Regions from separate parts of the Homo sapiens genome. Here regions 2, 3 and 4 are each reported to be linked to region 1. Evidence: microRNA targets listed by miRTarBase, many of them from high-throughput screens and not tested one by one. Region 1 holds a microRNA gene; each other region holds the end of a gene's coding sequence.
What was found. Region 1 holds the annotated microRNA hsa-miR-548z (CAAAAACCGCAAUUACUUUUGCA, at 2,174-2,196, opposite strand). A microRNA usually pairs through its seed, bases 2 to 8, with sites in the 3' UTR of a target mRNA and lowers its output. Matches are read on the target gene's strand: a 7mer-m8 pairs with bases 2 to 8, a 7mer-A1 pairs with bases 2 to 7 and ends in A, and an 8mer does both.

Region 2: miRTarBase lists CAMLG as a target of hsa-miR-548z. Seed matches in the 3' UTR shown: 7mer-A1 at 1,220-1,226.
Region 3: the mRNA of DEPDC1B is a reported target of hsa-miR-548z. Seed matches in the 3' UTR shown: 7mer-A1 at 789-795, 7mer-A1 at 1,134-1,140 and 7mer-A1 at 1,237-1,243.
Region 4: the mRNA of CBX3 is a reported target of hsa-miR-548z. Seed matches in the 3' UTR shown: 7mer-m8 at 2,647-2,653 and 7mer-A1 at 2,362-2,368.

Annotation. Positions count from the first base shown.
Region 1 is chr12:64,620,357-64,623,541 of GRCh38, forward strand. MIR548Z (microRNA 548z) reads right to left here and starts at 2,249; the gene lies at 2,153-2,249. All of the region lies in intron 1 of RASSF3 (Ras association domain family member 3), which reads left to right. It overlaps MIR548C (microRNA 548c), which reads left to right and starts at 2,153; the gene lies at 2,153-2,249. RefSeq lists an enhancer at 1,075-1,234.
Region 2 is chr5:134,750,465-134,753,649 of GRCh38, forward strand. It overlaps CAMLG (calcium modulating ligand), which reads left to right. Exons shown (of 4, transcript NM_001745.4): 4 at 295-1,693. The coding sequence ends at 486. Among named protein-coding and RNA genes, the nearest start is that of DDX46, 6.7 kb to the right of the region's middle.
Region 3 is chr5:60,595,219-60,598,403 of GRCh38, reverse strand. DEPDC1B (DEP domain containing 1B) reads left to right here. Exons shown (of 11, transcript NM_018369.3): 11 at 490-1,492. The coding sequence ends at 651. Among named protein-coding and RNA genes, the nearest start is that of DEPDC1B, 100 kb to the left of the region's middle.
Region 4 is chr7:26,211,828-26,215,012 of GRCh38, reverse strand. It overlaps CBX3 (chromobox 3), which reads right to left. Exons shown (of 6, transcript NM_016587.4): 6 at 1,406-2,931. The coding sequence ends at 2,805. Among named protein-coding and RNA genes, the nearest start is that of CBX3, 12 kb to the right of the region's middle.

The sequences.
Region 1 (3,185 bases):
GGATTGCTTCCACCTTTTGGCTCATGTGAATAATGATGCTGTGAACAGGGGTGTACAAATATCTCTTAAAGACCCCTCTTAAAACTTTTTGCGATATATACCCATAAGTAACAGTTGCTATAGAATCATATGGTAATTCTGTTTTTAATTTTTTGAGGAATACTATACTGACAAATTTGAATCCTTATTTAAACCCAGGATTATGGAATACTGCTGCTTGATTTCAGCTGTCATTTTGTTGTCTACATTGTATTTTATTGAATTGGCGTTATTCCCAAATATTGGAAAATGTGGAGGTTTCTAATTTTTGCTACTGTAAATAGCACTAATAAATACCTTGAGCATGAAACCTTTTCCATTATGGATTAATTTTATAGGATAGTTGTACAAAAATGGAATTTTACTAATTATGAGGGTGTGACTTTTTATGATTCTAGTTATATATTGCCAATTTATGTCTATTTTTAAGTTTCATTACACCCTTACTTCCATTGGATATAGTCATTAAAATAGAGAAAAAAAACTTCAATAACTAAAGGCACCTTATTGCTATTTAATTTACATTCCTTTATTATTATTTTTTAAATTATTATTTTTTGAGGTGGAGTTTTACTCGTCACCCAGGCTGGAGTGTAATGGCGCGATCTTGGCTTACTGCAACCTCCGCCTCCCAGGTTCAAGAGATTCTCCTGCCTCAGCCTCCCAAGTAGCTGGGATTACAGGCGCCTGCCACTACGCCCTGCTAATTTTTGTATTTTTAGTAGAGATGGGGTTTCACCATGTTGGCCAGGCTGGTCTCAAACTCCTGACCTCAGGTGGTCCACCCACCTCGGCCTCCCAAAGTGCTGAGATTACAGACGTGAGGCACTGCGCCTGGCACATTCCTTTAATTAACTGTGAATTTAATACTTTTTAAATACTTCTGAGTAAATCTCCCTTGTGTGAGAATTGTCCATGCATGACCTTTGCCCATTTGTCTATTAGGTAGGCAAAATCTTGAGAGAGCACTGCTTGAGTCTGTGCATTTTTAGCTTGGTAGATGGTTCTGCTTTTTTGAGGTCAGCTGAACTTCAGGGTTTTTTTTGACTTACACTGTTTGTACCAAAAGGATATTACATATTCAGGCTTTCATTTTTTTAAGATGGAGTTTCGGTCATGTTGCCCAGGCTGGAGAGCAATGGTGCGAACTTGGCTCACTGCAACCTCCGCCTCCCAGGTTCAAGTGATTCTCCTGCTTCATCCTCCCAAGTAGCTGGGATTATGGGCATGCGCCACTATGCGCGGCTAATTTTTGTATTTTTAGTAGAGACAGGATTGATCAGGCTGGATGGTCTCGAACTCCTGATCTCCGGTAATCTACCCGCCTGGGCCTCCCAAAGTGCTGGGATTATAGGCGTGAGCCACCGTGCCCGGCCCAGGCATTTTGAAATACTTCAGAATGTGTTTCAGGCTGACATCACTGAAACTCAGAAAAATACTTATTACTCCTGTAGTTACAACATGGGAAAGGCATTGCTAAGAAAGCATCACCATAAATAAACCCGTGGGATTCAGAAGGTGGGGAGTTGGGTGATGTGTTTTCTACTAACCATGTGTTTTAAAAAAAAGGGTGACTAGAAGTTCCTGTTTATCTTTGAATTTCAATAAATTTAGGGCTTGTTTTCCAACCACTCTGGTAGAATTTAGAAGAACCTAACTTATTTATTTTTATCTTTTTGACAGTCTTGCTCTGTCACCAGGCTGGAGTGCAGTGGCGCGATCTTGGCTCACTGCAATCTCTGCCTCCCAGATTCAAGCTATTTTCCTGCCTCAGCCTCCTGAGTAGTTGGGATTACAGGCATGCACCACCATGTCCAGCTATTTTTTTTTTTTTTTTTGTATTTTTAGTAGAGTCAGGGTTTCACCATGTTGGTCAGGCTGGTGTCAAACTCCTGAGCTCGTTATCCGCCTGCCTTGGCCTCCCAAAGTGTTGGGATTACAGGTGTGAGCCACCGTGCCTGGCCAGTCCTAACTTATTTTGTAAGTATACTAGGTATTGAAAAAAGGATGGTAGGACAAACTGCTGGAAACCTTACCCACCAAAGATAATTTATACTGTTTACTTATAGGCTTACTGTCTTTTGTTGAAAAATTGCGATGAGAAAGGAATCGGCATTGGCATCTATTAGGTTGGTGCAAAAGTAATTGCGGTTTTTGCCATTACTTTCAGTAGCAAAAATCTCAATTACTTTTGCACCAACTTAATACTTTCAGGCTTGTTGAAGCCTAAGTAGAAAATTGTTGCTTAATCTCTTTTATTCTGATTAACTCCTACTTTAAATTTTTTCTTTCAGAATCTTTTTATCAAGTGAATCTTTTAAAAAGATGTGAAGAGTTACTTCTGACTTTATGATTGATAGATTATGAGCCCTCCTTAATCCCCAATTTCTTAATTCAAACAAGCTTACTGTGAAAATTTTCTTTTTTCTTTCTTTTTTTTTTTGAGATGGAGTCTTGCTCTGTTGCCCAGGCTGTAGTACAGTGGCACGATCTTGGCTCACTGCAACCTCCATCTCCTGAGTTCAAGTGATTCTTCAGTCTCAGCCTCCCCAGTAGCTGGGAATACAGGCGCATACCACCATGCCCAGCTAATTTTTGTATTTTTAGTAGAGACGGGGTTTCACCATGTTGGTCAGGCTGGTCTCGAACCCCTGACCTCAGGTGATCCGCCTGCCTCGGCCTCCCTGAGTGCTGAGATTATAAGCATGAGCCACCGCGCCCGGCCACCGTGAAAATTTTCTACAAATGCTTGTTTCGAGGAATCTTTTTTGATATTTTGCCAGCAAAGTCATAGGAGCAAAATTTTTTTAAATGAAAATAGAAAACAACATAGTTAAATATATCACGTAGGAGGAAAAGTACCAGTACCAAAATTAACTTTAGCATTTCTTAGTGTTTTACAGTTAACAGGGCATTCCAAGGGAATTAAAATTCAGTTGATTTTATTGGACTTTAATTTCAGAGGAACTCTGAGATGAGAAATTTAACTAGCACGTTTATCCGTTTAGGCCTTAAGCAGATGCAGGTTTCATGACATGCCAGAGGTAAATTTAGGGGTACTTGACTGTAGTGAGTAATTTCCCAGCTATGGGAAAATGTAAATATTATGTAGATGGTATAAAGAAACAATATTACGTTTGTCCATT
Region 2 (3,185 bases), not on the chromosome of region 1:
GAGGCAGAGGTTGCAGTGAGCCGAGATCGTGCCATTGCACTCCAACCTGGGCAACAGAGCGAGACTCCATCTCAAAAAAAAAAAAAGCAAGACTGATGTCTGCTATTGCCTAGCAGATTGATGAGTTACATATTATATGCTCAGTAAATGTTGGTATCTTACTGATTGTTTTGAAACATCATTAACAGTTTTTAAATCATTTCGGTTAAAAACAGCAGTACTGATCATGTTTGTATAGAGCTTAATGTAGCCTGCTGAAACTTTGAAGATTAATTTGAGTCTTTCTCTACACAGAGTGAAAAGAAGATAAAGACAACAGTACTAACAGCTGCACTTCTATTGTCGGGAATTCCTGCCGAAGTGATAAATCGATCAATGGATACCTATAGCAAAATGGGCGAAGTCTTCACAGATCTCTGTGTCTACTTTTTCACTTTTATCTTTTGTCATGAACTGCTTGATTATTGGGGCTCTGAAGTACCATGAAGCCTGTAGAACTGAGAAGGAGAAGCTTACAAAAAAAAAAAAATCCTCTTCTATATTGCAGTGTCTCTAAAGGAGGCAAATTGGTTTACACCTTCATGTAATTCTTTTACTTTAGGGGTTGTAAAGCTACTTTATTAGATATAGAATGGCAGATTCTCTGATTTAAAAGGGCTGAGTTTGTATTATTACTGATATGAAGAATAGAGTACCAATGTCATTAATTGATTTTTCTTGTTAATCAGAATTCCTATTCTGTACCTTTCCTCTAACTTCTCAGATTTGTAATTCTTCTTTTGGGAGCTGAGCTAGTGCTTTTAGGAGAACAGATAAATGTGGTCTCAGCCAGCCCTAGAGACTGCTTCTTGTGTTTGTGTCATTCTGTCCTGAGAAATGAAGTCATCTGAAAAATAAAATGAAAGAAACTGAATTGTCTAATGTTAACTCTGCACATTGTAACTTTTCTTGTTGAGTTAGTATCTTAATTTTTACTCCAGCACAAGTATTTAATCAAAGAAAAGATTCATACATGTGAAATTGGAAGGTATTTATAAAATTTTTATTGCTGTATACCAAACTCAGAATTGGAACTTTTTACATTTGAGTTTCACTTTTTAGAAGTATGTTTTAAGCAAGCAAAAACAAAATGGGATGTGAAGAATTGAGGCATGCAACCCAATAGCATAAATGTCCTTTTTCCCCCCAAATATGGTCTAGATGAGTTATTATAAACATTGTTTTTATTTTTTTGAGACAGAGTTTCGCTCTTGTTGCCCAGGCTAGAGTGCAATGGCGCCATCTCGGCTCACCGCAACCTCCACCTTCCTGGTTCAAGGGATTCTCCTGCCTCAGCCTCCCAAGTAGCTGGGATTACAGGCATGCACCACCACGCCCAGCTAATTTTTATATTCTTTAGTAAAGACAGGGTTTCTCCATGTTGGTCAGGCTGGTCTCGAACTTCTGACCTCAGGTGATCTGCCCACCTCGGCCTCCCAAAGTGCTGGGATTACAGGCGTGAGCCACTGCACCTGGCCTTATAAATATCCTTTTAACTAACTCAGTAACTGCCATATTTTGTTGGGTTGTCTTCTTAAAAGAATATAAGACTAAAGTGTTAATGTCACTTGGTGTTACATTTCCTTACAGATTTTTGTATAGTCTAATTTGGTTAATCCTTGTGACATTAAAAACACATACACTTTTTAAAAAATTACTCTTTAAGTCTTGATTTCTGTCATTTCATTTTGAACCAGGGTAATGAAGAATAATTTAAGTCTATTCTTCTGATTTGGGTGAAAGATTATAAGCACACATTTTTCCTGATTCCATAATGAATCTAGTATCTAAAGGGTTGTAAATCATCCTTAAAGTTGTCACTTCCTTAATCGCTGAGAAGATACTAGTGGTCTTCAATTGCACATTGCACATGTTTACTCTTTTGGTGCTTTTTTTTTTTTCCAAACAGTGTTTACCACTGTTGTCCAGGCTGGAGTGTAGTGGTAGCACAATCATGGCTCACTGGAGCCTTGATTGACCTCCTGGGCTCAAGCAATCCTCCTGTCTCAGCCTCCCAAGTAACTGGGACCATTAATGCCTGGCTAATTTTTTGATTTTTTGTAGAGACAGGATCTTACCATGTTACCCAGGCTGGTCTCAAACTGGGCTCAAGCAGTCCTCCTGCCTTGGCCTCCCAAAATGCTAGGATTACAGGTATGAGCCATTGTGCCTGGCCTACTTTTCTTTCTTAAAAAAAAAAAATCATTTAGCCAGCTGACACATGCAAAATTTTAGTAATTGTAGATCATTATCAAATTTATATTTTGAAGACAGTTATAAGATATCTGTATCTATTGGTGCCATTTTTTGTCTTTAACTGATAGGCATCTCCCTGATCATTTGCTTGATTTGTTGAATAATATCAAGTAGAAATGAAAGTTTTTTTTGTTTGTTTGTGTTGTTTTTTTTTTTTCTGAGACAGAGTTTCGTTCTTGTTGCCCAGGCTGGAGTGCAATGGCACAATCTCGGCTCACTGTAGCCTCTGCCTCTGGGGTTCAAGCAATTCTCCTGCCTCAGCCTCCCGAGTAGCTGAGTTTATAGGCATGCACTACCACGCCCAGCTAATTTTGTATTTTTAGTAGAGACGGGGTTTCTCCATGTTGGTCAGGCTGGTCTGGAACTCCAAAGCTCAGGTGATCCACCTGCCTCGGCCTCCCAAAGTGCTGGGATTACAGGTGTAAGCCACTGCGCCCGGCCTGTTTTGTTGTGTTTTGTTTGACAGTTTCACTCTGTTGCCCAGGCTGGAGTGCAGTGGCATGATGTACAACCTCTGCCTCTCAGGTTCAAGCAGTGCTCACGCCTCAGCCTCCTGAGTAGTGAGTAGCTGGGATTACAGGCATTGCCACCATGCCTGGCTAATTTTTGTATTTTTAGTAGAGATGGCGGTTTCACCATGTTGGCCAGGCAGGTCTCAAACTCCTGACCTCAAGTGATCTGCCTGTCTCAGCCTCCCAATTTGCTGAGATTAAAAGTGTGAGGCCGGGCGTGGTGGCTCACGCCTGTAATTCCAGCACTTTGGGAAGCCGAGGCGGGCAGATCATGAGGTCAGGAGATCGAGACCATCCTGGCTAACACGGTGAAACCCCGTCTCTACTAAAAATACAAAAAATTAGCCAGGCATGGTGGCAGGCACCTGTAGTCCCAGC
Region 3 (3,185 bases), not on the chromosome of region 1:
ATTATTCTCAGAGTAATTTTGGAGGAGAGTTTAGTGGTAAAGATCAACAGAAAGTATACTGCCTCTCTTTTAAGCTTTTCACAAAGTAATATACACCAGAATATTCCCTCTTCCATTTGAGCAGAAGCTGGTGGGGCTGAGTTGGAGAAACAGAGAAATGATGAAATGTAATTGGGCCAAAATTTTATTTAACTGTGTAGAACAGAAGTTATTTTGAAGTCAGAGTTACTTGTGAATATATAAAAAGTGAGGTCTATTTATAGTTGGCAGTGGGGGGAATTTTCAGAAACATGATTAAAAGGGGAACTTATTTGAAGCTTAGATCAAAGGAAAGATGGATTAGCTCTATAGAAATTGGAATGAAATGTTTTAACAAAAATAAACAAAAACAGGAAAATACAGGCTCAGAAACTCTTAAAATTTGGCTGCCAAATTTTATTGGCTTTTATGTGTCTTTTTTTACTCTTCTTGGACCATTCATTTTTTTAGTTTCAGAAATCCTATCCTGAAGTCTATCAAGAACGATTTCCTACACCAGAAAGTGCAGCACTTCTGTTTCCTGAAAAACCCAAACCGAAACCACAGCTGCTAATGTGGGCACTAAAGAAGCCTTTCCAACCATTTCAAAGAACTAGAAGTTTTCGAATGTAATAATACTTCCACAGCAACAGGTGCTAGAGACCACTGTTGTTGTTTTGAGTGAATGGTGGTTAGGAGAAAGACTTTGGTGGTGGAAGAAAGAAAAGCATAAAACAAAGACTACTGAAATATAGATAAAGATTGCCTTAGTTTTTAAAAATGTTTGGCCATTAGTATTTTTATAAAACTCAATGCTAGTTTTAAAGTGTATAAATTGGTTAAAATTTATGAGTCAAATATATAGTGATAATGTTAACATGTTTGTAATTGCTACAGAATTTAAGGGTATTTTTATCTCTGTGCTTTCTTTTTCATGGTGTTTATTAAATAATTGTGTATATACATCCTAGCTACTGATATCTTTATTATAGCCTTAAGACTTAATTTTAAGTCTTAAAAATAGCGTGTATACTTGAATAAGAAAGACACTGGGTACTGTTACTGTGATGCTATTGACTTAGTAGCCAATTATCATTTCTCCTGTATAAATTCCAGTTTTTATTGCTGCACATAAATTTTTTAATGTCTTATATTGTGATAGCTATGTCTTTTATTGCAGATTTATTGGATGTTATGACAGATTTTACTAAAGCTAGTGTTTTTATAACATATATATTAGTTGATGTTTACCTATAAGTGGAGTAGATTTTCATCTGCCTGCAATGGTATAATTTCAGTCTTAGCTAAAAATGGAAAGTTGAACTGGATAAATTCTTTGGGTACCCTTAGACCTCTGATTCTAAGTCAAATGCAAATGGGTTAAATAAAATGAGACTACTTCCTTTATAAATATATTTTCATCCTTTTGAAAGTAAGTGAAATGTAAATAAACTTATTTTTTTTAAAAATGCCATACCTCGTGTTTCTTTTTTGGCATTTATTTAGATCAGTTAGAGAGCATCCTCAAATGCCTTTGCCAATGGTCTTCATCAGTCATTTATTTCTATGAGAAAATGAAAAGTAAGATTTGGGCTTTTGTACTGACTGGTCTTTAGGTGAGCACTTTGCCAATTTTTTAGCATTGCTTTGTCCTTTTGTAAAATTGTGGTGCACTTGGATTATGGAGCATCTGAAAGTCTTCCTCTGAGCGCAATTACCCAGAAAGCTGAGAGCAACACCCACTAATTGGCTTACAGTACTCCTTGGACTGATTTTTCCTTGCACTTAAGATTTGCTCCTGTTCTCTTGTAGCAAAATACCTCCTACATCTGATGCAGATTTTGCTTTTAAAAATGGACCAAAGTATTCCTATTGGTTTGGGTACCACCTTACATTCCAAATACATAATGTAATGGGAGATTTTTAGTGTTTCAGGATTCATTCTCAGACTTTGGCATTCTGTTTAGAGCCAAGAATAATTCTTCTTTCTGCTCTATTTTCACTCCGAGGTAGAGTTTATTTTTCAGAATCTCTTTTCCTGTTGCTTGTCTTTGGAAGTATATGTGGTTGTTTTCTTTCCTTTTTTTTTTAAGATTACTTTTTTAAAAAAATATAACATATTTATGGAGAGATCATAAAACATAAGCACCAATTAAGTGTGAAATTGATGAATAGATAATAGCAGTTATCCAAAGTGGTTGTCCCAATTAACGCTCCCATTAACAGTGTATGAGAACTCCTTTTGTTTAATATCCTCACCGAAACTTGCTATCGTCAGAGTTTGAAATGTTGTCAATGTGGTGGTTATTAATAGTGTCTGATTATGGTTTTATTTTGCATTTCCATGATTATTAATATGGCTGAACATTTTTTTCCATTTTTTTGACTTTTTCGTCTTTGTACAAATTTTGGTATCAGATTGTCAAGCCTGCATACACACACACACACATGCAGAGACACACACTCACCCTGTTGAGTTTTTTTTTTTAATTTTGATTGTATTATATGTATAAATCAATTTGCAGAGAATTGCTGTCTACAATATTAGGTCTTCTAGTCCATGACCATGGTTTACCTTTCCATTTTATTTGAAATAAATGAGAAAAAAAGTTGCTTTTTTCTGTGAAGATTTACAAATCTTTTGTTAGATTTGTTCCCAAGTATTTGATACTTTAAAAAAAGTATCAAAATTTTCAAAGACTGTAGTACCCATTTCCTGTTTCAACAGTTACTCAGCTGATCAATGTTGACGTTTAATTCTTTTGTAAATGCTGGTGTTGTAAATTTCCTTATAGTGTTTGTTGCTTCTGTATGGTATAAAACTGATTTTTCCTGAGTTTTGTTTACAGTGAACCTTGCTAGACTTGTTAATTCTAAACATTTAGTATGATTCTTTGGCATTGTCTACGTATTAGGAAAAAAACAGCTTTTGCTTTTCCGTTCCATGGTAGACAGCATCTATATTGTCCTCAGTGATCCTTGCCTCCTGGTATTTAATGCCTTGTGTAATTTCCTGTCCTTGAGTGTGGGTGGAGCTAAAATGACACATTTCTAAATAATAGAATATATCATCAGTGATGGGGTATCACTTCTCAGATTAGATTCCAAAACTCTGGCTTCCATCTTGCTTGTCTTCCTTCTTATTCTCTCCCTGGCTTGCTCTGAGG
Region 4 (3,185 bases), not on the chromosome of region 1:
CTATGCTAGAATAGAGTATATTTTAGTGTATTTATTAAGTAAGATGACCCAAGATAACAACTGGGTGAAATATAAATTGCAAATATATTTTTTGTTAAAAACTATTTTTTTTGAGTTTCACTCGTCGCCCAGGATGGAGTGCAATGGTGCAATCTTGTCTCACTGCAACCCCCGCTCCCTGGGTTCAAGCAATTCTCCTGCCTCAGCCTCCACAGCAGCTGAGATTACAGGAACACACCCCCATGCCTGGCTAATTTTTGTATTTTTAGTAGAGAGGGGGTTTTGTTATGTTGGCCAGGCTGGTCTTGAAATCCAGAGATATGGGTATCAATTGAACTTCGGGTTTGAAGCAAGGAAATTGATGAGGTGGCCTTACTTCTGTAGCATCTGAGTTGTTACAAGAAGCCTATTACATAAACATCAGAGGGTAGAAATGATAGAAAAAGGGTTTTCTCTTCAGCTAAAGATCTAAGCTCCAGGAATTCAAGAATTTGAATGAATGGTTTGGCTCAATCCTTCCATAATACACCGTGGTAGACAGGAGAGATGGAAAGAGGAAGAGAGGAAGGGCGAGAAAGATGATGCAAGATGCTCCACTGCTTGCTGATTCTGAAGATGGAAAGGGCCAGGAACCAAAGAATATACGTGGCCTTTTGAAATGGAAGAGAGAAGGAAAGATTCTGCCATCAAAGCCTCCAGAAGGAATTCCCCTGATAACCTGACTTCAGCTTGCTTAATTTTGGACTTCTGACCTACAGAACTATTTTCAGCCATAAATGGGTTAAATTTGTGGTAATTTGTTAAAGCACCAATAAGAAACTAATACAAACACTAGAGAATATAAAAAAACAATATTTTTCAAATTTTTTGAGAAACAGTCTGTCATCCAGGCTGGAGCACAGTGGTATTGACATAGAGCTCACTGTAACCTTAAACTCCTAGGCTTAAGGGACCTTCCCAAGTAGCAAGGACTACAGGTGCAAGCCACCACACCCAGCTAATTTTAAAATTTCTTGTAGAGGTGGGGGTCTCACTGTTGCCCGGGCTGATCTCAAACTTCTGGGATTCAAGTAATCTTCCTGCGTTGGCCTCCCCAAATTTTGGGATTACAGGTGTGTGCCACCATGCATGGCCAAAGGACAATATATTGTTTTCAGAAATGCCCTTAGTAAAATTGAATGTAGGGCCACCAACTACTAATATGAATAGAAGGTTCTCTATCATCTGTGAACCCACCGCTGAGAGCAGTGGTGGGTATATATATATATATATAAGGAGGTACTTAATAAACATCAGTTATTTACCTTTTTCTGTATGGATTTTGGAAATCAATTAAAATGTGTCTATCATCACACTGAGCCCTATCAGAATACTTTACATTCTTTAGAAGACAGTTACAACAAACCAGAATTTAAAACCTCATTTTAATGAGACAATTGACCCTAGGCATCACATGAAACTTTTATTTCCCAACTGTGGAAACATTCCTGTGGAAATACATATTCAAGTTTAAAACTCGTAAGCTCAAAAGATCTAGGATATGTACTGTAATGCCTTACTGGTATCATCTAACTTATAAACAAAGATAATCCAATGAGTGTGGGCATTTCTATTTCTACTGTAAAGGCATATCAAATAAAGAAAAAAGTCTAATAATTGCATAAAGGAATATAAAACTATTTATTAACCACTGTTCACCAGTATTTACAATAAAGTAAACAATATACAGTTGGATAACATTTTGATTACTACAAAGTTGTTCTTCCTGGCTTTTGCTGAACCAGTAAAGCAAACTCAAGATTGAGCCTCCATGTAATGAATTGGGGTAAAGAAAAAACATGCAGGTCAATAGGTTAGGTTACAAAAGGTTGTTCACACATTTATGACAGCAGGTCCTAAACTGCCAACACCTCTAACCATCTGATTAGGTTTCTATGAGCCAAGTCTTACATATTCCATTCATCATGACCTTTTAGTCAATGTAGCAACAGGGATTCCAACATTTTGCTAAGGAATGGCCCGCTAGGGAAACTTTTAAATGTTCATTTAACTTAGTTTTGTTTAGCTAGTTAAAACACACTAGCATTTGTCTAGTTTCCTCATCTGGATGAGGAAACCTGCTGTGATGGCAGTGATAAAATTTTTCCTTTTAGGAATTTTGCAAATAAACCACTGCAATTATAGACACTTTAAAATTATCCAATTTAAATTGTCCTATCTAGAATTACTTATTTCACTTGAAATGTATGGTTTCAGGAAAATTTTCAATTTAACTTGAAGGGATTATCTCTTATTTTGCTTGGAATAATGGCATCTCAGAAACATGGGTTTACCTGTGATTTTTTTGTTTGGGTGAATGCTTAAAAACAAAAAAAAATTTACATATGCATTTTATGGATACACACACACACACACACACACACACACACAAAAAACACGTAATAAATCTAGAATGGTCCTTAGGCTCATGAGAACACAAGTTTTGACTGAGTAATGACTATGGACATTTCCCCCAACATTTAGAAAAGCTGTTCTTTAATGAAGAGGAAATGATATACCATGGTATCAAATGTTCTTTTCTGATAAAGGAAGCAACTACAGAAAGCTTTTATTTATTTGTTCAAAGTAACCAGTGCTATGGATGCAAAAAACCCCCAACAACTCTTCCAACGCTACTTTCAAAACAAACATATCAAACTTGATTTTCATTAGGATGTAGTTATTTTGTCACACTAGTAAATCAAAATCTAAGACCCAATTTTTATATATATATATAAATATATATAAAAGAACAATGTGAACAATTATTGAGCTTCATCTTCTGGACAAGAATGCCAAGTTAGTCTCTCTTCATAAAAAGCAATTACAATTTGAGGACACTTCATATTTGCCTCTTTCGCCAGCACCAAGTCTGCCTCATCTGAATCTTTCCTGTTTTAAGAAAAAGAAAAATTCAGTTACAAGTCGAAGTTGTTCATGTCAACCGACAGCCATTCATTTAAGAAATAATAGTCCAAACAAAAGGTATTGAAGTGCTCCAGGAGAGTTATGTTACTTGTTGCTATGTTCTAATAAACTTCATTTTCAAAACAGGCCACAGTTTGCTGACCCTTGCTTTAAAACACTACTAGTAAAAGTAACCAGAATCATCCTCTCAGCAGATAGTTTTTCCCTACCTAATGATG